Homo sapiens: one gene and its partners. The protein of the gene in region 2 purifies or fractionates together with the protein of the main gene of each other region. This does not show direct contact. Each region holds a gene or a part of one and is shown on either strand. Other genes may lie near its edges.

Region 1 (9,213 bases), on a different chromosome or scaffold from region 2:
AAAAATGACTAATTTTATATCATATCACATTGGTGATTCCTCACCAAACTCCCACAATCCACCTAGTAGTAAAAATAGGTCTCTAGACCTTTGGGAAACAAAGCAGAAAAATTACAGCCACCGCTCTGTTGAAGAAGTCCTACACTTTAGTGCATGCTTAAAACTTCACTCTGCCCAGCTTTTAATTCTTTGGCCAAGGCATGTGAGAAACAGCACCTAAAAACCAAGTATTTATGAGTATCCTTACATAGGAAGAAAAAATAAACAGGAAAAAGAAAGAAAAATATACTGACAAAGGCGACTGAGACAAAGGTATTGTTTAAGGTAGAAACTCCTCTTTTTTTTGAAGTTTCATTAGTTCTCCTTTCTTTTCTGTCATTCAGGGCACAGTAATAGGTATTTCACTATTTCACCTTACATTTTTATTTAATGTGTTAAACTAAAACTGAAAATTTTAAAAAATCATTTTAGATTTAATATTAAAGGTTTCCAAACTCTAACGAGTCACTGAGTGTCCTATATGAATTTTATTGGTTTACTTACTAAATAAATAGAATTAAGTTTGATAATCAGTTTTTTAAATGCCCATGACTTCCACATATTTTTGAGAATCCACTTAAATTTTCATATGACATTTTCATGAGTGTATTGGACAATAAAGCCCTAAATCTACAGTTCAAGAAAATTACACTTCAAATGACTAATTTATACTCCACAATTAATATAATTAACAACTTAGTAATAAACAGCTCCTTTTGTCATTTATTCTTTTCTCCAAAAGTTTCTATTTAAAAATCTATTGCATTCTTTAAATACATACAAAGAAATTTTAAACCTAACTCTTTAAATTCCAAATATCATTGCAGTTACAAAATCTTAGGTAGATTTGGGGATATACTATCTCAGTATTACTTTATTTCTAGTGACTCTAAGCTTAATGGTAAAGTTCTCTAAAATAACGTCTGCATACTGAAACTTCATGTCAGATTTTCATTGCTCTGAAGAGTTAAATTTCTTTTTTATCTCAAGAGAAACATTTCACTTCCTTTCTTAGTCTACCGTATATCTAAAAAACCCCATCTGTTAAGAACTGATTCAGCACACATTGCTACTGCTGCAGAGTCCAAACTGGTTATACATTCAAATCAGTTTCCAGGTTGTGAAAGCTCTACTGCCTCTTACCAGGTTAAAATGTATTAAGTAAGCATAGGAATACTTACTAAAATAGCCTAATATAATCTAACTTAAAAATGATATTGGTTAGATCAAAACTGCAACTAAAAATGTGTTCCTTTAAATTACAGAAATACAGTTACCTGCTAACATACTAACAGTTTGAGATTTATCTTCTTTTAAAAAGAAATGGCAAGTACTGACCTCTTATTTGCAGCTAGTTAAAATTAAAACTCAAGAAAACTGTATTTCTAGTAGTGTTCTGAAAAGAACTTGGTTATATCAACTTAGTGACATTCCCTCAAACTTACACTGACTTTTCATGATGATTTATTTGAAAGGTACAAAAAAGTAAAAAGAGGTGTTTTGTTTTAAACAGCAATGAATATAACAAAGACAGATAATCTCCTTTGACCTGACACACTAGCAAAAGGAAAAAAACAGCTTCAACTTTTCTGTGCATTTACGAGGTTCATAAACCGTAGACATTATCTAATGCATGTCTCAGGACACCACTGATGTAGCTGCAGCTTTCTCTCAGTTTTCCAATAGAGTAAGTAAAAATAATTGCTTAGCTGAAAAATGACTGCATGGGTGTTACAAAGTACCCCTGTAAGCATATTGTTATATTCCTGTGACCCCACACCAAATACAATACTCAACTGATTGCTCTCGATTTATGTCTTGCCTCCCAAAGCCCAACCTTACAGTATGTCAAAGACTAGATCTATTGCAGAGAAAACTGTTTAAAAAGCTTGGCTGCATTTAAAAACAAAACAAAACAAAACAAAACCTCCATTTACAAAGCACTAAATATGAACTACTGTTAATTATCCTCAATGTATGATTCTCCTCTCCTTCTTTCCATTTCTTTCCCTGACATCTTAAACGCTTCTGAGCCTCTCTGTAGATAGCGCAAAACATTAAGTCATACACACTTCTGCAGTAACTCTTTCTTACCATGAAAGGAACCAAAACCTAGGGCTGCGTTTAAAACCTTTCCTTTAGTCTTTACCCACATGCCACACTACTGAAAGTAACCACAGAAATCAACCTGTGTGATTTGGTGTCCTCACACACCTTGTGTGCACAAAAAATGACTAAGAGATCAGTATATTCAGGGCAATATTACAAAGAAGGGACGGCTGCTTCTGAGATGGAGGGGGATGGATACAGACACAACACTCTCCATCATGGCCTTGGAATATTTAAAGACAGATGCAAAACTGCATCATTTTCTGTCTCCTTCGAAAACATCACACCCCAGCTGCTCAAGTTGGAAGCTAATGCGCTTCTCACATTTCAGCAGCACGGGGGAATTTAGGCTCCAGGGGCAAGGCTGTCATCCTCGGAGAGCGACACCAAGGACAATTAAGTGTGAGAAAAAGAACCCCAGAGAACAGGAGGCCTCCTCACCTCCTAACTAAACTCTAAAGTCGACCCAAAACCTTCACCGCGGGTACTGGGTTACTCGCGGTCCTAAAAAGTGAGAAGAAGCGGTGTTAAGTTGGGCACTGCGCTCAGGTGGCAGGAGAGGACCAGAAAGAGGAGAGGAGGGAGGTGGCGTGGCTCTAGCAGCGCGCAGGCAGGTCACCCGCTGGGCAATACCGGCTGAACGCTCTGCGCTCCCAGGGACGCGCGGCGCGTGTGACCCTGGGGGTGAAGGGTGGGAGGGAAAGGCGCTGGGGACGGTGTATGTGGGGACTGGGGAAGCAGATTGAGAGCACGCCTTTTCCTTACCAGGTTGAGCACCGTCTCCACGATGTCCCTGTTGCTGACCTCTCCGACCTGTATGAGTCCAATCAACACTGCGAATTTCATCCGGATGTTGCGGATCGGCACCGAAGGGTTAATCATCCCCGCGGGGAGCATCACCGAGCCGGAGCCGGACGCCCCCCTTAGCTCCCCCATCCCGCTGCCCCCGGTGCCGCCACCACCGCTGCCCCCGCCGCCTCCGCCAGCGGCCCCGACGGCAATGAGCCCCACGGGCTGAGGCTCGAGCCCCGGGCCCGGGCCCGGCTTCTCGCTAGCCATTGGCCCCCCTCCTGAGGAGAAGGGAAGAGCAGCGGCGCTGCCGCCGCCGGTACCGTTATACCTGCCTCGGCCCCCGCCCCCCGGCCGTCGCCTCGGAGCCCCAGCATCCACCAGCGCCGCGGCGCCGGGCCCGCTCCCCGCCTGCGCCTCAGCCCGGCCCGCTCCGGCGCTCTCCCCCGCGGAGGCGGCGGGGGATCCGCAGGCTTATTCTCGGCGGTGGCGGTACCGCTAACCGCTGCCGGGCAAGCGGCTGTGCCCGCCCAGCAGGTGTGCCGCTGCCGCTGCCGCTGCCGCCGCCGCTGCCTCTGCTCTCTCCCTCTCCCGGTCTGTCCGGCCCGGCCCGCCCCCCGCGGAGATGCTGCAGCCGCTCCGAGAAGCCCGAGGACGCGAGCAGCTGGCCACGACGCTGGCCGGTGCTGAAGCTCAGGCTGTGGCCGATGCTATTGACGCTGCTGCCGCCGCTGCTACGGCCACCACTGTTGTTGTGAAGCCCCGACGCCGCCGCTCACTCCGCCATGTTGCCGCCCCCTGCCTGCGGTAGCAGCCACTGCGCCTGCGCACAGCCTCCGGGGGGGCGGAGCCCTCGGTGCACCCCCTCTTTTGCCCTGCCCTCCTTCTCTTCCCACCCACCCACCCCGACACCCCTCGTCCCTCCCCCAACCACCCCGAACGGATAGACAGGTGAGCAGGTGCATGGGGACTGCTGCCAGACACTGGGGCAAGCTGGCAGAGGCGGGGCGGGTAGTGGCTTCCTTGTGGTTTTTCCCTTGAGGGCGGATTCTCCCTTTGGGGAAGGACACAGTGTGCATGTCTTGCCTTCGCTGCCACCTCCTCCTTCTCTCAATATCCTCTTGCTGGGAGGAGGTTCCTCATCTCAGTTGTTGCATCCAGCTGCTGCTACTGCCAGTGCCACGTGCCTTGTAAGGTAGGGGAGTGGCAGACGACCTCTTTCTGCCCCTCCTCGCCCTTCCTCGCAGTCCTGTCCGCCTGCCCTCCCTAGAATTTCCCAAAGAAAAAGTGGCTGGCAAAGCAGAAACAAACGCGCGGGGGGGCGGGGGGGCGATCCTGCATTGTCGGGGGAAGAATACAGACGGAGTGTAATGGTGCTTTTTCTACAGCCATGAAAGAGGCTGACACCTGCACACTCAGGCACGACTTAAAATAGAACTTGTCAAACAGTGATCCTCTCTGGATCAAGCTCGGAACAACAAACAGCTCTTGAACTCGCCTCCCAGCCTAAAAAGACTGCAGTGTGTGACACTGTGGGGTAGTTTGGTGGGAACGACAAATCCCACACTTTCAAAATCCTGACAATCCTCAGGTATGATGCCAATTATTAATGTTTCCTTTTTTCACAGGCACGTACAATTCAGAGGACTTTCGAAATTATCTAAAAACATGGGTGATTCTCACTGCCAGCCTTGTCTGTGAGAAAAGTACATATCTATGTCTGCACAGATACGAGACAAAAAATAAACCTTTAATTTTTAAAAATTAAAATGTACACAGTAATCTTGCTGTTAGTATTGAATTAAAACTAAATAGGCATGACTGTTCCTTGAAAGGAATGATATAATTTTCTTTAATATTTCATGAGGTCTTCCCTTTTCAATAAAGATTATTGCAAGTCACCAGAAATATTAGGTATCTTGAGGTATATTCAGATCGTTTTAATTGTCCTCTCAAATGAAAAAGGTCAATATACAAATCCACCATAATCAGTTTTGTTATTATTCATATTTAATTGGACCTGCCAGTCAAGTTAACTCCCAGGATATGGGAACACGGTAAAATTCTAAGTACCACAGGTTATAAAAAAGTTCCTCAAAACCAGTACTTAGGATGAATTCTTGGTTGCATGTCTGTTTGTTTAAACTTGCACCAAAGTGATTGAATTGTTAAAGTAGTTAAGCAAACACTTCTGAAAGCAGTGGTAACTAGCATGTCCATTTAAATTAAATGGCAATTGAATTATAAAATGCTAGAATGCTTGAAACTGTACGGGAAATTTACAAAACATACAAGTCATAATAGTATGACTTGAGATATACTATATAATTGAAAAATCCTGTAACGTTTATATCCTTCTACTACATTTTTGTCTGTCCCAAGTGAGTATCATCTGCTTTTAAGAGTACTGTTTCATTTGCAAATTTAAAATGATATCTTTGTAAAATACATAAATCTAGACTGAAAGGTTGTCACACTAAGTTTTTTTACCCACTGTGCATATATCTATATGGCAGCAGGTTCTACCTTTTGCTATTTTTAGACTTCTTGCATGAGTACTTTGAGAGACAGTGACAACCTGAACTTTCTATTTCCTTTCTGAATGAATAGCTTAACATCATTTTTAACATTTCCATTTTGATTTTTCTTGTATTTTTTCTTAAGTAGTATGTATATGCAGTTGGTTGTATTTTTCTGCTCATTTTTCTTAGTGAAGATAGTGAGTGGGTAAAGATAATATCACCATTTCTAAGTAGGAAAACTCCACTTCTTTTGCCTACTTAATTCAATTTCAGAGATATTTAAAAGAGCTTACCAATTAAAAATCTTTCTCCAGTAGACAATCAGCTCCTCGCAGGCGCTATGATACTGTGGAAAGTGCATGATTCTTTGAGTCATAGTTACAACTTACTACCTTTGCAGTCTACTCAAGCTATTTGAGTTTCAGTCTCCTGGTTCCTTAAGTAGGAATGATAATATGTGTTTCATAGGGAAGTAAGAATTCCATAAAATAATTTCAGCTGAGCAGCTAGCATATAGTCAATGTGTCTTTGTGTCCTTAGTATACAGGCATGTGTGTTGCATGACCTATAAACACATGTAATACCAATTATAACCACATACAAGTCTGCATAATTGCACAGTTATATGTCTTCCATACCATCCCAAAAGCATAAAGTTCAGAAAAGTCAACAGGTCTATTTCTTTTTGGCCTACAAAACCTTTTCCCGGAAAATGTGCAAATAACTTTACATTTACATTAACAATATTTTGAAAGAAAAGCTACATAATAATAGAAGATACCCAATATGTATATTTTTAAATCTCCAGATTAAAAAATATATTTTATGTGGTGAATATTAATTTTGTATGCATTTTTGCATACCCATACTTCCTAAGGACAATCATTCAAAGATAAGAAACCTGTGAATCTGAGTTTCAGGAAGCAATATTGCAGAGAGGTTGAGAAGTCATGCCCCAGATTCAATGGAAGCTGGATTTAGATTCTAGTTCCACCACCACTTATATGTGTGATGTTGGGAAAATGACTTTAGCTTCAAAGCTTCAGTTTACTCAACCCAAAGTAAGGATGATAATACTACTTTATAGGATTAAAGGAGCTAATACATTTAACGTACTTAATGTAGTAGTAAGTGGCAATCAATAATGTTTCCCTTCATTGGCTGCCGGAAAATACCCACAGTTATTTTGTGTCATTATTTTTGGGTTTTTTTTTTTTTTGCACCTACCTTGCCTGACATAATTTACATTGAATAAATATGTTCAAAAATGAATGGATGGAAACAGCCGTTCTCCACACTATTCCCGTTTCCTTCACCTGTTCTTTAAAGAACACATTTCTTGCTTTCCTCTAAACTTTATCTGAACAGAATACTCCAAATTCAATGTGGGTTTAGACCTGTATAAAACAGAGGGAAATTCTTACCTCACCCTCAACCTTTAGCAATATAGCTCCTGTTAATGTTGCCCCAAATCAAATTAGATCTGTTTGGTTTGTTTTGGTTTTGGATTTTTTTCTTAACATGACACTAATGATTCGTGTAATGTAGTAATGATTCACATTTGGCACGTAGTAGGTTCTCAAATAATTTTGGTTCCATTCTCCTCTCATATTGAAATTATTATCACCATTAAATTAGTTACAGATCTGCCCATTCTTCCTGGTAATAGGTCTCGCATTCATCCCACTTTTTTCATCCTCACTGCAGCCACCCTGATTCAGATCCCAGTCACTTCATACCTGGTCTCCTCTTTTCCACACTCACTCTTCTCCAGTCCATCCTTACATGGGTAATCTTCGTAAAGGTCCATCTTGATGGACAGATTAGACCATCAGGATTAATTAGGATTAATAAAGAGTTTTACTTTATTAATCACAATAGCTTCTGCATGAAATAATTATCGACCTGAAAAACTAAGGCGTTTTCTTTTGTTATTACTGTTTTTTTAGCAGCAGCATATCTACAATTTGTAGCTTTACATGTAGATTTTGAGATATAAGTACAAAATTGAACATATCAATTTAAATTTAAATTTTATTTTAAGGCCAGGCATGGTGGTCCATGCTTGTAATCCCAACACTTCGGGAGGCCAAGGCAGGTGGGTCACTTGAGGTCAGGTGTTGAAGATCAGCCTGGAAAACACGGTGAAACCCCATCTCTACTAAAAATACAAAAACTAGCCAGGTGTGGTGGTGGCCACCTGTAATTCCAGCTACTCAGGAGGCTGAGGCAGGAGGATCAGTTGAACCCGGGAAGCAGAAGTTGCAGTGAGCAGAGATCATGCCACTGCACTCTAGCCTGGGCAAGAAACCAAGACTCTGTTTCAAAACAAAAAAAAAAGATTATTTAATACAAATTTTCTATTTAATTATCCATTAAATTTCATCTGCTAGGAATTTCTTAATCCTGATTATATCATGCAAATAATTTATTGTCTTATTAGTCTATGTGTAAATTTGGGAGCATTCCTTCTATACCTCCATTCAAATGTTGATTGAACAGGATGAAAACAGCTCAGCAGTCACCAGTATCACTCTGCTTGAATCAATTCACGTTTTTCAAACTGTGGGTCCCATCCTAATAGGGAGTCATGAAATTGATTTAGTGGGTTGCAACCAACAGGGTTTTTTTTAAATGAAATGAATAGAAACACACATAATGAGAAATTTCAAAATCTATTTTGTAAGGGTAAGTACCATTTTATAAGATCTGCTTTAATTACACACACGTACATAAAAATACATATGTATGTTTACTAGGTAATGATGTAATATGTATTTCTTACTGCAAATTGTAGTCAAAAAGTTTGAAAACTGATTTAAGTTGTTTATAAGCACCTGTTTAGCATACTCCTTCAATAATAAATTAGCTACCATAGTGTGCTGATAACTAGCACACATATTCCTCTGGCTTTACCAAAGGATACCGTAAGGGACCTTGACAACTGTCTAGCTGCAGTCTGGATACTCTCTGTTTCTGTATCTGAGCAAAATTAAATGAAAATATATTGATGTGAAGTATTATTACTTGCTTTGGAGATATTAAGCTACTTGCTATGGATTTTCGAGAATTAACCTCACCCTGCCTTTAGCACTTCAATCCTCTGGCACTCCTAGTTCTCTATGACTCCTCAAAGACCATTGAGAGTTGTTCAGTGATCTAGTTTTCAGATTGTTTTAGGATCAGTGGATGCAATTTGTCCTGCCTTGGGGACTTGAATTCATTTAGCCTCTCTAGGTGTCTATTTAGAATTTCTTCATCAAACTTAAATGTCAGTTTCTTCCAACTACCACTACTTCTTTTACCTTTTTTGCTCCACTAATTTTCCTCTTAAAGAGGGAACACAAACACAAAATAGAAATTCTATATTTGTATCCTAAGTTGACCCAATTTGGGAATGGTTAAAATGTTGAAGCTTACCAACCAATACATATTTGTATGCCAAAAATTAAACTAATTGAAATGAGTGATTCTGAATCTTTCATTTAGGAAAAGATTGTGTTGAGACATGGAAAATTATCAGCAAGTAATTTTAAAATGTCAAATGGTACTGAAATAATAAGTATTCTGGAATCATAAATGAACTAGATATCATACAAGCAGCCTAATGCAAACATGTACCCGTAAACATCACATAAATATGCATACAAATGCACCATGCACACATACTTATTCACCATTAAATTGTCATACCTCTGCCCATTCTTCGTGGGAGTGGGTCTAGCATTCATCTCATTTTTTTCATTCTCACTGC
Region 2 (9,902 bases):
CCCTCTATCACCCAGGCTGGAATGCAATGGCATGATCACAGTTCACTGCAGCCTTGATCCCTTGTTCAAGGGATCCTCCCACCTTAACCCTCTGAGTAGCTGAGACTACAGGCATATGACACTACGTCTGGCTAATATTTTATACAGACAGGATCTCACTATGTTGCCTAGGCTGGTGTTGAACTCCTGGGTTCAACTGATTCTCTAGCCTTGGCCCCTAAAAATGCTGGGATTACAGGTGTGAGCCACTACACGTGGTCTACTCATTACTTTTTTAAAAACCACATTTTAATATAAGTATTCCCTATTCAAATATTATTATTATGTATAAAACAGGATGAAAGTCCTCAAGCTACTTAATCTAAAGTAGATACCACGGATCTAAATATAAATAGAAAACCAGTTGGCAGCTATACCTCATATATACATTGATCCAAATGATTTTATTTCGGTTAAGTCAAAGGGGTTATTTTTAATACTGTTTGGCTTGCTTTTGGTCAGATGGAAATTTGTAAAAGGAATTTCTGAAAGATTTAAAAGATAAGGCATAGCTAACTGGTGTGGGTGGCATATCAAAGTATAACACCTATGAGAAAAAGTAGATATGGGACAAAAGATTAGAATAATGAACATATTGAAGTATACGAGAAGTTCTTTATGAAAGAAAGAAAAACTCAATGAGAATGTAATTCATTTCTCAAGTCCAGAAGTCAATCAGGTCAAAACAATATCTCAGAGCATAAGAATATCCCATCAGAATATGCCTTTTATTATGGCTTGGCATTAACATCCAACTACTCTGACAGAACAAAATCAGATCTATATTTACAAAAACTTACCAAAAGAGACATTGAATCACTTTAGTTCACACAGAAAGTGACAAAAATCCATCTATTCCAAAGAAGGCTTTTGTTTTATCTTCCTTTCAAGATGCAGATATATCCTACTATAAAAAACAAAAGCAAAATAATTTAGATTCACATAAAAGTTCCTTAAAGAACCAGTTGCCTTAAACCCATCCAATATTTAGGCAGCTATTCCCTGATACCCAATATTTAGGCAGCTACTCCTTGACACAAGGAGACATTCCTGAAAAGTATCTTTAAAGAGCATTTATTTTTTACTGAACATTATTTGTGATCTGACATCACAACCAAGAAGCAGAGTGAAAACAAAAAGAAGTCCTGAATATTTCCAAAGCCTCAATATGTTTGCATTTCTCCTTCCCTATCTTTTCTATACTGTTTTTTGTTTGTTTTTTAAAGAACGCTGAGCAAATTTGAAAGCAATGTAGAAAACCAATTTTTGGCCCACTTTTGATATAAACAGTGTCACTTACAATAAACCCCAAGAATTTTCAATGGTTCCACATATTACAACTAAACTTTGAGACTTTCCAAAGCCCTTTCTTATTGGATTAATTACGTATTAAATCATTTGGGGTCCCTGACCAGCAAATATGGGAAAGAATCAGAATAACAGACTAGGAAATTAATTCAAGGAGATACAAAAGCACCATCCACGGTTTCCAGACCTTTACTAATAGAAAGGGTGGCAATCTTGTAAGTTTGTGGGTTCAGAGCATCCCTTTACATCTAACCAACATCATCTCTTTCATCTAAATTGTGCTTCATTATTTCAACTCCCCAAATTTGATGAACCCATCTACAAATATGTGAGCAGGATGAGAAAGGGAAGATTTTGTAAACCATAAAAACCATAAAGCAATATCCAATTTTATTGCTAAAGAAAGAGGTGAATTTATTCAGGATGTTCACTATGAACCAAAGGTAGAGATTGGGAGGAAGACGGACCTGAAAGGCTGTGATCATTTAGCCACCTACCATTCATTACCGTCAATTTAAAGCACTGGAGTTTGCTGTGCTGCAAAAGGAGGAAAGCAATGCCTGCCCTGCCAACCTTCCAGGGTGAATGAAATCAAATGAGTTACATCTCAAAGTGCCCCTAATTAGCAAACACTGTATCAGCTTGAACTATGCTTTGAAAGGTACACTCAAATGTACTGATGGCAGTACAAAACTATAAGGTTTATTTGGAAAGCAGGTTGTCAAATGTTTCAATAACCATGAAAATATTCATACTTTTTGACCCAGTAAAATTCCCCGGAGTGATCTATTCTAAGGAGATATCCAAGTAAATGAAGAAACTACACATCATAGTCAATACACTGTTAATCTGTTAACAGCCAAGTAATCATTACACAAGTGTTTAATGAGTGGTTACCATGGGTCAGGCACTGTGGACACCCGCTGGTAATCAGGGCAGACAAGACCCTGGCCACTTGTAGCTGACCTTCCCACAAGCAGAAGGGTTATGGATGTCATGATTAACCAAATTTTCTGGTTATCATGATTTTGTATCCTGCTTTTTTCACTCAATGTCAGCAAGTTGTTACTGATTTTGTCTTAATAATGTGAAACTCCATTACGTTGTCTATTTTTTTCTCTTTTTCAGAAAAGCTCAGAAGAAACAGACACAATCTGGTAAGAATTGTTAGTAATAAAAGGGTTGTCCCTATGGGGTGGTTTAATCTCAGAGATTTTTGCCTTAGATACACCAGACTATTAAGAGATAATTTTACAAGACATTTTGAGGTCAAGGCAGCAGCTGCACCCAGCAAAGGGGTGGGGGTGGGGGATTTGCTGTTATTATAATTTTCTCCGGCATGCTCTTTCACGAGATATGAATATAAACCCTTTCTTAAAAAAAAGTCATATTTAAGAGACTTATATTTCGTATTCACAAGTACATCAGTGCAGTCCCTTACACTTGTATCCAAAACGCTAATTACGATAAAGCTTTATAAGTAATTTCAGTTTGTTCCATAATAGAATGGTTCATGTGAAGACTTTGATCTGAAAGATTAACACTTTCTGTAGAAACCAAAGGGCGCATCTTCTAGAACACGGGTTTTGAGTTAATTTAGGCATTCAACAGAGGCCACTGTTACAGGGAATGCAAAAATGACCCGATGTAACTCTTTGTTGAGCTTTAAAATTACTGTAATTTTCAAAGTGATCTTGGGAACCCATAAAATCTTAACAAAGATCATAGCGACGCACAGTTCAGGAGAATTTTCCAAGCTTAGTGACTCATGCGTTCAACAAATCTTTACTGAGCGCCTACTGGGTGCCAGGCACCGTGCTAAGCAGGCGCCGTGTTACACATCCGTATCAAGTTTTGGGGAAAAGGTACTTGACAAAGACCCAGCAGGGAAAAACACAGCGTTGAATTGAAAAACCGAAGACAAAACGACACTCGAGTATTTAATTTTGTAAAAGGTTCCTTCCTAGTCCTGCTATGGGGGACTTTGCAGCGAACTTGCAGAAGGCGGCAGATAGAGCTGGGGTCTGAGGGTGTCTTCGATATGGCAACTCCCCAAGCCCGAGAGCGCGGCCAAAGGTGAGGGGTGCGGGGAGAGGGCGCCCGGGCGGCCTGGGCCCCGCGCACCTGGCACGGCCGGCACGGCCAACCCGGCAGGCACCACTGGGCGGGCTGCGAACCCGCGGCCCGGGCCCCGCTGAGCCCGAGCTGCACTGGCGCAGTGGCTGCTCGCCACCTCGGGCCGCATTCTTGCCACGGCTCCCGCCAGCCGCCGGTGCTCGGGCTGGAGGTGGGCTAGCGCGTTCTGGCCTCTGGCTTCCCGGGCGTGCGCGGACCAAGGCTCACTCCCTCACACGTCCCCCACCGGCCCCGACACCTTCCCTTCCCGGGCCTGCCTCCCGTCTTTACCCTAGCGGCGACCACGGCCAGCGACTCTCTTCAGGCTGCCAGCGGTGCGGACAGGGGCGGGCGCCAGAGCCCTGCTCGCGGAGGGGCGAGGCGAGCGCTCTAGGCCCGCTCCCGGCGCGGGGCGCGGGAGGGCGGCGAGGCCGCGACCGGGGCCGTGGGCTTGGAACTCTGCACCAGTCCCAGGCTACCCGCTGGGAACGCATTCGCCCCACCCGCGCCGGGGTCGCGGCCCCGCCTCCCTCCCCGGGGCTGGGCAGCGAGAAGGCGGGGCCTTCGAGCTTGAGGCGGGGCGGGCAGGAAACTACAATTCCCAGCAGGTCTTGCGCTGGGGCCGTGGAGGCCGCTGGGAGAGTGGCTCTCCTTTGGCTTCCCCAATTGTGTGGGGGCTGCCATTGACCCGGTGTCGCCGCAGAACCGAGGTCGCCGAGTGATGATGTTGTGAAGTCGCCCGCCTGTCCCTGCCACGCCCGGGCGGTTGCTGGCAGTGGGAGCAGCGGCAGCAGCTTCGGCTGCTGCTTTCAGGCTGCCGCTGCATTAGGGGCTTCCTGAGGAAGCGCGGGCGGACGACAGAGGATGCCGAACCACTCCAGTGAGTAAGCTGTCCGCGCAGAACCCGAACTTGCCCTTGACAACTTCCCCGGAAAGCGGAGGGACCTCCTCGTCCCAAGGTCCTCCGGTACCCGGAGGTCACGCGCGGACGTCGGAGCCGGAGGCTGGGTGCTGGAGGGCTGGGTCCGGGTCCCGCGGTGAGGCGTGGGTTGTTTCCTAAGTGTGGGTGCAAAGTAATGGGCGCTAGGCGCTGGCGTCGGTATTCAGCCCAGCTGCACATCTGAGGCTTGGCAGCTTCTCATAGCGCCTTATCCTCTGCCATACAGCATCCATCTGGAGCCCTGTCTTTTAGGATGAGTGGCTTTAGGGTCGGGCATTAAACCTTAAGCTTCAGTCGCCATCTGTGATGTAAGTGGGAGGAGAGGGTATTGGAAAGAGCTCTTTCTGGGTCAAATAGAGTTGGGCTTTTCTTGCAATTGATTTTGAGCCAGATGCCACATATCTTGAAAAAGAAAAACGGCTGACTTTAGTTTGAAGCGTAAATAATAGATATTCGCACATGTCCTTTTTAGTAGCAGCCCAAAAATTGAATTTCAACTTAAAAAAAAATCTGCGTCATAATAATAGGGATGTTACTTGCTCTTGCTCATGCACCTTTTGCTTAGACCTGCTGTTTCTACGTCAGAAAAAAAAAAAAAAAAGGTAACTTCACAGGATATTCATCAAGTTGATGGAATGGACCATAGGAACAAAAGGAACACTTTCAGTTCTTGGTCTCCGTAAATCTTCCCGACCTTTAGATCTTTGCTGTTGACTTGGAAGTCTGAGGTACAGTAGTCTCCAAATAGCAGGTTAATGGTGGTGACATGACACTTAAAAACAAATTGTGAAGGACATTTGGAGGTGAGAAAGGTCAGGGATGAAGACATTTTATCATCCTAGCAGTTATTCCAACTTTCTTTTCTTTTTTTTTTTTAAGACAGAGTCTCGCTCTGTCGCCAGGCTGGAGTGCAGTGGGGTGATCTCGGCTCACTGCAACCTCCGCCTCCCGGATTCAAGCGATTCTCCTGCCTCAGCCTGCAGAGTAGCTGGGACTACAGGCGCGCACCACCACGCCCAGCTAATTTTTGTGTTTTTAGTAGAGATGGGGTTTCACCATGTTGGCCAGGATGGTCTCGATCTCTTGACCTCATGATCCACCCGCTTTGGCCTCCCAAAGTGCTGGGATTACAGACGTGAGCCGCCACACCCAGCTCCAGTTTTCTATTTTTAAAATTAAGTAATGTCCAGCAAGTCTCAGACATTTAGCAAGCACATACCATGTGAAAGACAGTGTTTTGTTATCTTACACACTTATTCATATGATGGAAGAGGTTTGTTAGAAAGAACCAACATTTGGCCGGGCGCTGTGGCTCACTCCTGTAATCCCAGCACTTTGGGAGGCCAAGGAGGACAGATCTCCTGAGGTGGAGAGTTCAAGAACAGCCTGACCAACATGGAGAAACCCGTCTCTACTGAAAGGAAATACACCAGCCTGGCCAATATGGTGAAACCCCGTCTCTACTAAAAATACAGAAATTAGCCGGGCGTGGTGGCACGCGCCTGTAGTCCCAGCTACTCGGAGGCTAAGGCAGAAGAATTGCTTGAACCCGGAGGCAGAGGTTGCAGTGAGCCAAGATTGCACCCCTGCACTCCAGCCTGGGCAACAGCGAGACTCCATCTCAAAAAAAAAAAAAAATTAGCCAGGCATGGTGGCACATGCCTGCAGTCCCAGCTACTGAGGAGGCTGAGGCAGGAGAATCGCTTGAACCCAGGAGGCGGAGGTTGCGGTGAGCCAAGATCGAGCCATTGCACTCCAGTCTGGGCAACAAGAGTGAAACTCAGTCTCAAAAAAAAAAAAAAAAAAAAAGAACCAACATTTTAGTATTTGCAATCTGCCAGGCACCCCAGGTGGGAGCTCTTCATACTTTAGCTCACTTAATCACTTTAACAAACCTATCACACTAATCTGAGGCTCAAAGACTTGCTTATGTAACAAGGGGAGATTTAAATCTAGATCTGCCTTGCTTCCAAGTCACAGATCAGGTAACTAATACGTACTTCAGAAATTATAGACTTTAAAGGTTGAGTGGTTAAAGAGGATTGTCTAGTGTTATTGTCTAAGACTGGTTCCAACACACACCTTGGACATCTGGAATAAGTCCTGAACCCCTGCTTTAGTACTTTTGAACAAACTGATTCTCTCTGCCTACAATTCCCATTTCTTACTGAACTGCTCAGTAAGACCCGAAAAGCCCATTCCAAATCCATCTCACTTATGTAAGAAATTATAAGACTGGACTTTTATCAAAAGGTTCTTTTCAGTTTACAGGTTTTGTGAGTCTGCAAATAAAAATATGACCCTGCTGGGTGTGGTGACTCACACCTGTAATCTCAGCACTTTGAGAGCCCGAGGCAGGAGGATGACTTGAGACCAGCCTGTTCAACATAGCAAAACCCCATGTCTACCAAAAATAAAAAATAGCTGGGTGTGGTTGTTTGTGCCTGTAGTGCCAGCTGAGATCAAAGGATCCCTTGAGCGATGATGGCACCACTGCACTCCAGCTTGAGTGACAGAGTGAGACGCCATCTCTAAAAAAAATTAAAATACGAGCAGAGAAGTGTTATTCTCCACTGAAACTTTCTTTGCTTTAGTGCCCCAAATATGTTAAATACCAGTATAAGGAATGAGACAGATAATGTCTTATTTCATGTTTATTGTGAGCTCTCATTATATTATCTGTACCAGTTTTGAACCTCTTTAGTTACCATCCTGTTTAGTTGGTAAGAAATAGGAGGCAAAAAGGTAATAGTCACATTTAAATGACTTAGTAATTAAAAGAACTAAATTATTCATAGTTGAGTCATTATCTGTTCAGATCTGCAGTGTTCTTATAATAATAGGAAACATTTATGTAATACTATGTGTTAGATAATGTTTTACCTATATTAACTTATCCTCACAATAGCACTGAGGTGTTTTTATAGATAGGCAACTAAAGCAAAGAGAAGATAGTAAATATACCAAAGGTCATGTAGCTACTACATGGTAGTACTGAGTGTCAGAGAAGACAAGATCAAAATCTGTAATCTAACATTTATTGAGAACCTACTGTGTACCAGCCCCACAGCTGGGTGCTTTCATTATGAGTTAGTCATTTGTCTTTACAACTACCTTATTTAAAATGGAAGTTCAGCATGTAATGACTTGCTCAGAGTCACAGATAAGTAAACTGTGGAATCAGGATTTGAACCCATGCTTGTCGTACTTCAAGGTTCCTGTTCTTTCTTTCATTTTCCTTCAGTGATCAAATCTTTATTAAACACCTTCTGTGTGCCACACACTGTGCCAATGCTAGGAATTTAGTCTTTGCTCTTAAGGAATGTAGTTTGAAGAAGGAAAGAGACAATTAACATAGTGTGTTGAGCAATGGGATCACAGCTTGCCGAGGTACTTTGGGAGCACAGAGAAAGAACACTGAAGTTACTCTGGAGTGGGAAGGCTTGGACCAGTCTTGGGAAAACAAATGGGAATTAGCCTGGGCAGAGAAAAGGGGAAGGGGTTGTTATGGGCTGAATTGTGTCCTCCCAAAATTATATTGAAGCCCTAACAGCCGTAACCTCAGAATGTGACTGTATTTGGAGACAGGGCTTTGGGGTGATTAAGTTCAGATGAAGCCGTTAGGGTGGGTTCTAATCCAGTCTGACAGTTTTCCTTATAAGAAGGAAATTTGAGCACAAAAAGAGACACAGGAGTTGCACACACAAAGGAAAGACCATGTGAGGATTCATCAAGAAGACCAAGGAGAGAGGCCTCAGGAGAAACCAACCTGCCAACACCTTGATTTTGGACTTCCAGACTCCAGTATTGTGAAAAAATAAATTTCTGTTGTTGAAGCCACCCAGTCTGTGGTAGTTTTTTATGGAACCCCTAGCAAACTAACAAATAGGTGTTCTAGGCAAAAGGAATGACATACAAAAAGGCTTTAAGCTGTGGTTAGGTGATAGAAGTTGACATACAAAAAGCCTTTAAGCTGTGGTTAGGTGATTGAGGTTTTTTGGTGAAGAGATAAATGTTGAGAGAAATGAAACTGGAGACTAGGCTGGGGCTGGATTAGGAAGATTTTACATGAGATGCCAAGGGGCTTAAACTTTATCCTAAGGAAGATGGGATGGAGGTGGTTTGTAGCAGTGGAAAAGCATTAGATTTGCATTTTAGAAAGACTAAGACTTGTAAAGGATAAATGAAAGGTAATAAGACCGGAGACAAGGTAACCAAGGTAGCTAGTGCCACAGGATGCTGAACTAACAGTTTTCCCAGAATATTGAAATGTCTAACTAAAACAGAGCCACTGTTAATATAACATTATAAAGGGCACAGCTAACCCTTAGGGTGTACATAAGAAGATAGGGAAAGAATTTGTATATAGCTGTTTGTACCCAGAGGCTGTCTTTATTTTGACATTTTGCTTTTCCTTGTATAGATCATAAAGCTTTATACAACTATCAGAATATTCAGATTTTTCCACTCTAAAAAGTGATCTTATGTATTTAATAGACACTTTTATGGTGCTGACACAGATTTAAGCCAAATTCTTTGACAACCTTTTGAAATACCTACTATTCATTTTAAACGTAAACATACTGAAGCACAGAGAGATTAAGTAGCTTGTCCAAGATCACATAGCTAACAGGCAGCAGAGTTAAGATTCAAACTCAGTCTGTCTTTAGAGTCTGTGTTCTTGGCTTTACACTGTGCTGTTGCTATATGATATTTATCTAGCTCTTTATTTGTGAAAAGAGGGCAGAGTAATACAAAAATAAGTATGTTTGCTGTAAGAGGCATGCAGTTTATCAGAGGAGATAAGGAACAGCTCTAAGGTTTTAAAAACTGTTTTAGAGAAGAGCAGAAAGTGTTCGGAGGCAATACCTCCTTCAAGTTGGGGTTTCTGGGAAGGCCTGTTGGGAAAAGTGGCATTGAGCTGGTGTGGGAAGCATGGCTAGAATTTGGATATGTAGAATGGGGAGAGGACATTAAAATTAGAAGAAATAGCATGGACAGAGTTACAGGACTGAGAATTTCCTGGTGTGTCTAGGAAGCTAGTAAATGCAGTTCTTTCTTTTGGCTGGAATATGTTGTGTGGTTGGGGAAGATGGAGAAGCTAGTTTGCAGGGAGGGGAAATGTCTGGGGAAGAGAATTCTCGGGGAGTGAGGGGCAAGAGAAGTTGTAAGGTTTCAAGCCTGAGTAATTGAGGCATATGCCAGATGTAGTTATCTTTTAGGAGAGGAAAAAGTTCATCTATCCCCAACTCATCAGTTAACAGGTCCTGTTTTCACTATCTCACAAACCCGTAAATCCTTCTTAAAATTTCCATTCACCTAGTTTATACCTTTATTAAAATAATCCATGCGTAAATGTGATAAAATTTTCTAATTATTTTTGTCTCTAATCTCTCCATTCCAAAATTTATCCTGCATCCTGCATTTACATTTATTTCTCTCAAATGTCACTTCTATTTAGAAATGTGTTCCCTGCAGGATCAAGTTCAGACTTCTTAAT
Region 3 (5,104 bases), on a different chromosome or scaffold from region 2:
TTTCAAAATTTAAACAATGTTACACAGAAAAGATCTGGCCATATGCATGGTAAGCCCATTTTAAAAGGCCTATCCTATAGAATAAAGACAAGTTTAAAAAGGAGATCTTTCTTTATAACAGCAAAAAAAAAATTGAAAACAGAATTAGTAAAATAAATTGTGGTATAACCATACAATGCAATGCTATGTAACCATAAATAAGTGATGGTTCAGAAGTCTGAATACTAGGCCAGGTGTGCTGGCTCATGCCTGTAACCTGAGTACTTTGGGAGGCCAAGGCAGGCAGATCACCGAAAGTCAGGAGATTGAGATCTGCCTAGTCAACATAGTGAAACCCCTTCTCAACTAAAAATACAAAAATTAGTCAGGCGTGGTGGTGTGCACCTGTAATCTCAGCTACTAAGGAGGATAAGGCAGGAGAGTCACTTGAGCCTGGGAGGCAAAGGTTGCAATGAGCCGAGATCATGACTGCACTCCAGCCTGGGTGAAGAGTGAGACTCCATCTCAAAAAAAAAAAAAAAAAAAAAAAGAAGAAGAAGAAGTCTGGATACTGCCTTAGAAAGATGCTGACAGCATATTAAGTGGAAAAAACAGGCTATAAAATTATAGGGTTAAAGGAACCTTCTCCTATATGCACAAACAGGCCAAAGTTCCATTAATGCACCTGCCATATTTTAGTCTCTTATCAACTACCATCCACGGAAAGAAGTTAACCACAAGAACTCTAATAAAAATAAAAAGCATAATAGATTAATTCTAGAGTTTCAAACAAGAAAGATATTGCTATAATATCTATACTGAACAGTTGTATTATAAGCCAAAAATAATTATTTCCCACCATTGGTGTCAATAATTCTCTTTCCAGATGAGACCTGTTCTATCTCACCATCTAGACAGAGAGCTACCAGAGCTAGCACAGTGGCATAAATTGTTGATCATACATACAAAAACAGCCAGATAAAATATAATAAATGATATACAAAATAAATTGAGTCAGATATTATAAACAATGCAACCCAAAGCTACACGCCATATTTATAAGAGGAAAGAGTGGCAGCAAAAAGTCACTGAAAGAATTTTGAGAGAAAATGAAACATTCTGTCCTACTATATTTATACCCTCTGATAAATTGGAAATTTACTTGGGTGTACTAAAACCTCTATTTTGTTAATTAAAACTTGTCAAAAGGTCTAAGTATCATAAAGATCCTATGCTATAAAAACTGCAATAGCATATAACAAAGAGTGGGGAGTTAGGACTCTTGGGGAAATATTTAAATATTATTCCTTTACTGTAAAAGTATTTATTGTGTTCTTTATACCTTGATGAAATATTTTTGAGACTATTAAGACCCAAAAGACATAAACTGCATTTATTGTGTAGAAATTCAGAATGGCTCAGGCTACACAATAGTAGTCAGATGTAAAGTGTACTAAATTTCATCTTCTAGAAGGGTTGATTTTGAATTCAATCATCATTTGAGAGAAGACATCCCAGCTCGCATAATTTCATCAACCAGGAGAATGTTGGTGGCAATCACTGTGCTAAGGAAAAAGATGAGAGGGTGAGTAAAGCCTACTAACCCACTCTTAGCTTTTTTCCCCAGCAATCTTTACCTATGTAGGGTACTTTGTTCTTTAATGATGTTAGTATGATGTTTTATGAGACAAGGCTATTATAAATACAAATACAAATGTCACCTTTTTTTTTTTTCCCAAGATGGAGTTTCACTCTTGTTGCCCAGGCTGAAGTGCAATGGCAAGACCTCAGCTTACTGCAACTTCTGCCTCCCAGGTTCAAGCAATTCTCCCGCCTCAGCCTCCCGAGTAGCTGGGATAACAGGCACCCACCAACACGCCTGGCTAATTTTTGTATTTTTAGTAGAGACAGGGTTTCACCATGTTTGCCAGGCTGGTCTCGAACTCCTGACCTTAGGTGATTCACCCGCCTCGGCCTCCCAAAGTGCTGGGATTACGGGTGTGAGCCACCGCACTGGCCCAAATGTCACCCTTTGTATTATAATTTAAACTCCTTTGCTGATAAAGTGCATTCCTGATTTATATTTCAGCAAAATTGAGCTTATTTTTACAATATCATTTGATTTTCTCCATCATGCATGTGCTATTATTTCAGTAAATTTCCCCTTTTCTTTCCCCCTCAAATAGTAAGGTTAATTTTTCTTAGAACTTAACACTGCTAGATCTAAAATATAAAAGGGACTATGGACTATAAAATGACAGAAGCTAGTTCTAATAACTGAATACCACACCTTTCATACACTTGACAATTTTTCCACTGTACAGGGACAAAAATAATAGAAAAAATTTCATCTTAATATTATCAATTATAACTCTACAGGTCTTTCACTTTATGTTCATATGAACTTACCAAGAGTGAAGAAGTTGTTTTTTTACACAATAATTATCCCAAACTCCTGCATCTGCTGCTACCATTGGCTCACCTGAAAAGTAAAAACAATTTTCATACCAAAATCTTAGTATTTGCTATTAATATTAATTGATATCTTCTAAAAATATTTAATACATTACCAAAACTACTTTTGTCAAGGTCATCAATGACCTCCATATTGTTAAATCCAATGGTTGATTCTCAGACCTCATCTACCAGTATTTAACACAGTTGATCACATTCTGCCGCCTACTCTATGTTATCTTCCAGGATACCACACTCTTCTGGTTTTCTTTCTTTTGCATTAGTGGCTCCTTTTCTGATTACTTTGCTGCTTCTTCCTCTTCCTCCCTGACCTCTTAACGTTGGAGTACCCAAAAGTTCAGTCCCAGCCTCTTTTCTCTCTACCCTTAATCCCTAGGTGATCTCATCCAGACTTTTAGATTTAAACCATACACATCTGATGACTCTCAAGGTTTTTTGGGTGTTTTTGTTTTTTGTTTTCTTTCTTTTTTTTTTTTTTTTTGGTGTTTTTTGTTTTTGTTTTTGAGACAGAGATCTTGCTCTGTCACTCAGGCTGGAGTGCAGTGGTGCCATCTCGGCTCCCTGCAACCTCCACCTCCTGGGTTCAAGCAATTCTCCTGACTCAGCCTCCCAAGTAGCTGGGATTATAGGGGCCTGCCACCATCCCCGGCTAATTTTTGCATTTTTAGTAGAGATGGGGTTTCACCATGTTGGCCAGGCTGGTCTTGAACCCTTGACCTTTAGTGATTCACCTACCTTGGCCTCCCAGAGTGCTGGGATTACAGGCGTGAGCCACTGCGCCTGGCCTGACTCTCAGGTTTTAATCTCCAACCCAGACCTCTTCCTTGAACTCCAGACCCATATATCCAACTTTTTTAATTAAAAGATTACAGATGCTTCAACTTTGACTCTGCCAAAACTGAATGCTGATGTCCTCTCACCCACAACCTGCTCCAGCCAGTATTCTCCACCACAGTTGATTGCAACTCCAACCTTCTACTTGTTCAGTTGACTTCTCTACAAAGTGGAGAGTGGCCAGAGTGATTCTCTTAAACATAATTAGGCCACATGCCTGGCCAACATGGTGAAACCCTGTCTCTACTAAAAATACAAAAATTAGCCGGGCGTGGCAGCAGACACCTATATTCCCAGCTACTCCGGAGGCTGAGGCAGGAGAATTGCTTGAACCTGGGAGGCAGAGGTTGCAGTGAGCCAAGATCGTGCCACTGCACTCCACAGCATGGGTGATAGAACGAGACTGTCTCATAAATTAATTAATTAGGCCATGTCACACCTCTGCTCAAAATTGCTCCCTGCTCCTCTAAAGTAAAAGCCAAAGTCCTGAGACTGGTCCAAATGCCCCTGCATGATCTGACCTTCTGTCACCTCTCTCACCTCCTTCCTCAGAAACATCAGACACTGGCTTTTCCACTGGCTGTTCTCTTTCCCTAGAACACTTAACCCCAGTTGCCTACATGGCTAATTTCCTCACTTCCTTCCACTTTTTTTCAACAGACATCTAGATGATGCCTACCCTGACCAACCCTTTAAGCTGTCATTCTCTCTCCACCCTCCTGTACTAGCATTCATGATCATTATTATAGCACTCTTTTTTCCATATAATTCATTACTTTTTCTAAAATGCTGAAGGAGTTTATTTATTAAAGTTATTATTTACTGCCTACCTTCTCCCACTACAACATAAGCTCCCAGGGGCAGATATTTTTGTCTGTTTTGTTCTGTGTGAAGCCCAAGAGGAAAACAAGCACTCAATAACTATTTCTTAAATGAATGAACATTTTTTAAGAAGCTCAAAAATAAACTAAAGGCATCCAAAATTTAAATATTAAAGTTACCCAAACCTCTACTCCTTTACCATAAGATCTGGGTAACTAAAGAATAACCTCTTTATTAAGCAGCTAATTTTCCTTCACTTTCTTACCTGTATTCAAATCTACGCCCACAAGTTGTTTTGACTCGACATGCTCAGCCTGAACTTTTACTAATGTTTCCTGTGGGTCATAACCAGCATTCTGAGCAAGAACCTTTAGGAATAAAAATAATAATATATATTATATATATATGCATAATACCTTCACATATATCAAATATAAAAATACTCTTTACTCTTGTAAAAACACATCCATAACATGGCAATCATCTCCTTTTGAAGAATTCCACTTTTAATCTAAATCAAATTATTATTTCATCTATCTAGTAGTTTTTATATTTACTTAAACATTTCCCCTATGCACGTCACACTAAATTCTGAGGACATCAGAGTTCCCCCATTTTTACCCTACTACATTAATTTCCCTCCTTGCAAAAGGTTTGTTTTGTTTTGTTTTGTTTTTAGTATGGAAGGAAGTAGAATGATATTCTTGTTTCCTCTAGTGCCGCTAGCCACATGCCCTCCAGTTCTTCATAGGCACTTGCTAAGGAAACCAGAATATTTGCAGCACCTTTGTGCCCCTCATCTTCATGAGGAGAGTCACGACCTGTGGTAACAGGGTTGGAGATACCTGCACTCCAAACCAGGCTCACTTCCAAGTGGCCCCAAATCACCAGCTGATGAGGAAAAAGGTACCACCAATGTAATGTGTACTGGGGTTACCAATTTCTGTCAGCAGCAGGATCATACTGACTTTGCTGCTCTGGGGAAAGAAAAAAT

What was found.
Region 1: the proteins of STRADB (region 2) and NBEA purify together in Homo sapiens (affinity purification with mass spectrometry; 2 studies listed by BioGRID and IntAct, with this or other methods). This does not show direct contact.
Region 3: the proteins of STRADB (region 2) and CCT6B purify together in Homo sapiens (affinity purification with mass spectrometry; 3 studies listed by BioGRID and IntAct, with this or other methods). This does not show direct contact.

What each region holds. Positions count from the first base shown.
Region 1 is NC_000013.11:34,936,815-34,946,027, reverse strand, and holds the start of NBEA (neurobeachin), read right to left. Parts: upstream 3,759-9,213; 5' UTR 3,208-3,758; coding exon 2,914-3,207; intron 1-2,913. UniProt on the Homo sapiens protein: Binds to type II regulatory subunits of protein kinase A and anchors/targets them to the membrane. May anchor the kinase to cytoskeletal and/or organelle-associated proteins.
Region 2 is NC_000002.12:201,445,790-201,455,691, reverse strand, and holds the start of STRADB (STE20-related kinase adapter protein beta), read right to left. Parts: upstream 3,953-9,902; 5' UTR 3,754-3,952; intron 947-3,753; 5' UTR 852-946; coding exon 840-851; intron 1-839. UniProt on the Homo sapiens protein: Pseudokinase which, in complex with CAB39/MO25 (CAB39/MO25alpha or CAB39L/MO25beta), binds to and activates STK11/LKB1.
Region 3 is NC_000017.11:34,926,574-34,931,677, forward strand, and holds the end of CCT6B (T-complex protein 1 subunit zeta-2), read right to left. Parts: intron 4,479-5,104; coding exon 4,376-4,478; intron 2,462-4,375; coding exon 2,389-2,461; intron 1,545-2,388; coding exon 1,475-1,544; 3' UTR 1,288-1,474; downstream 1-1,287. UniProt on the Homo sapiens protein: Component of the chaperonin-containing T-complex (TRiC), a molecular chaperone complex that assists the folding of proteins upon ATP hydrolysis.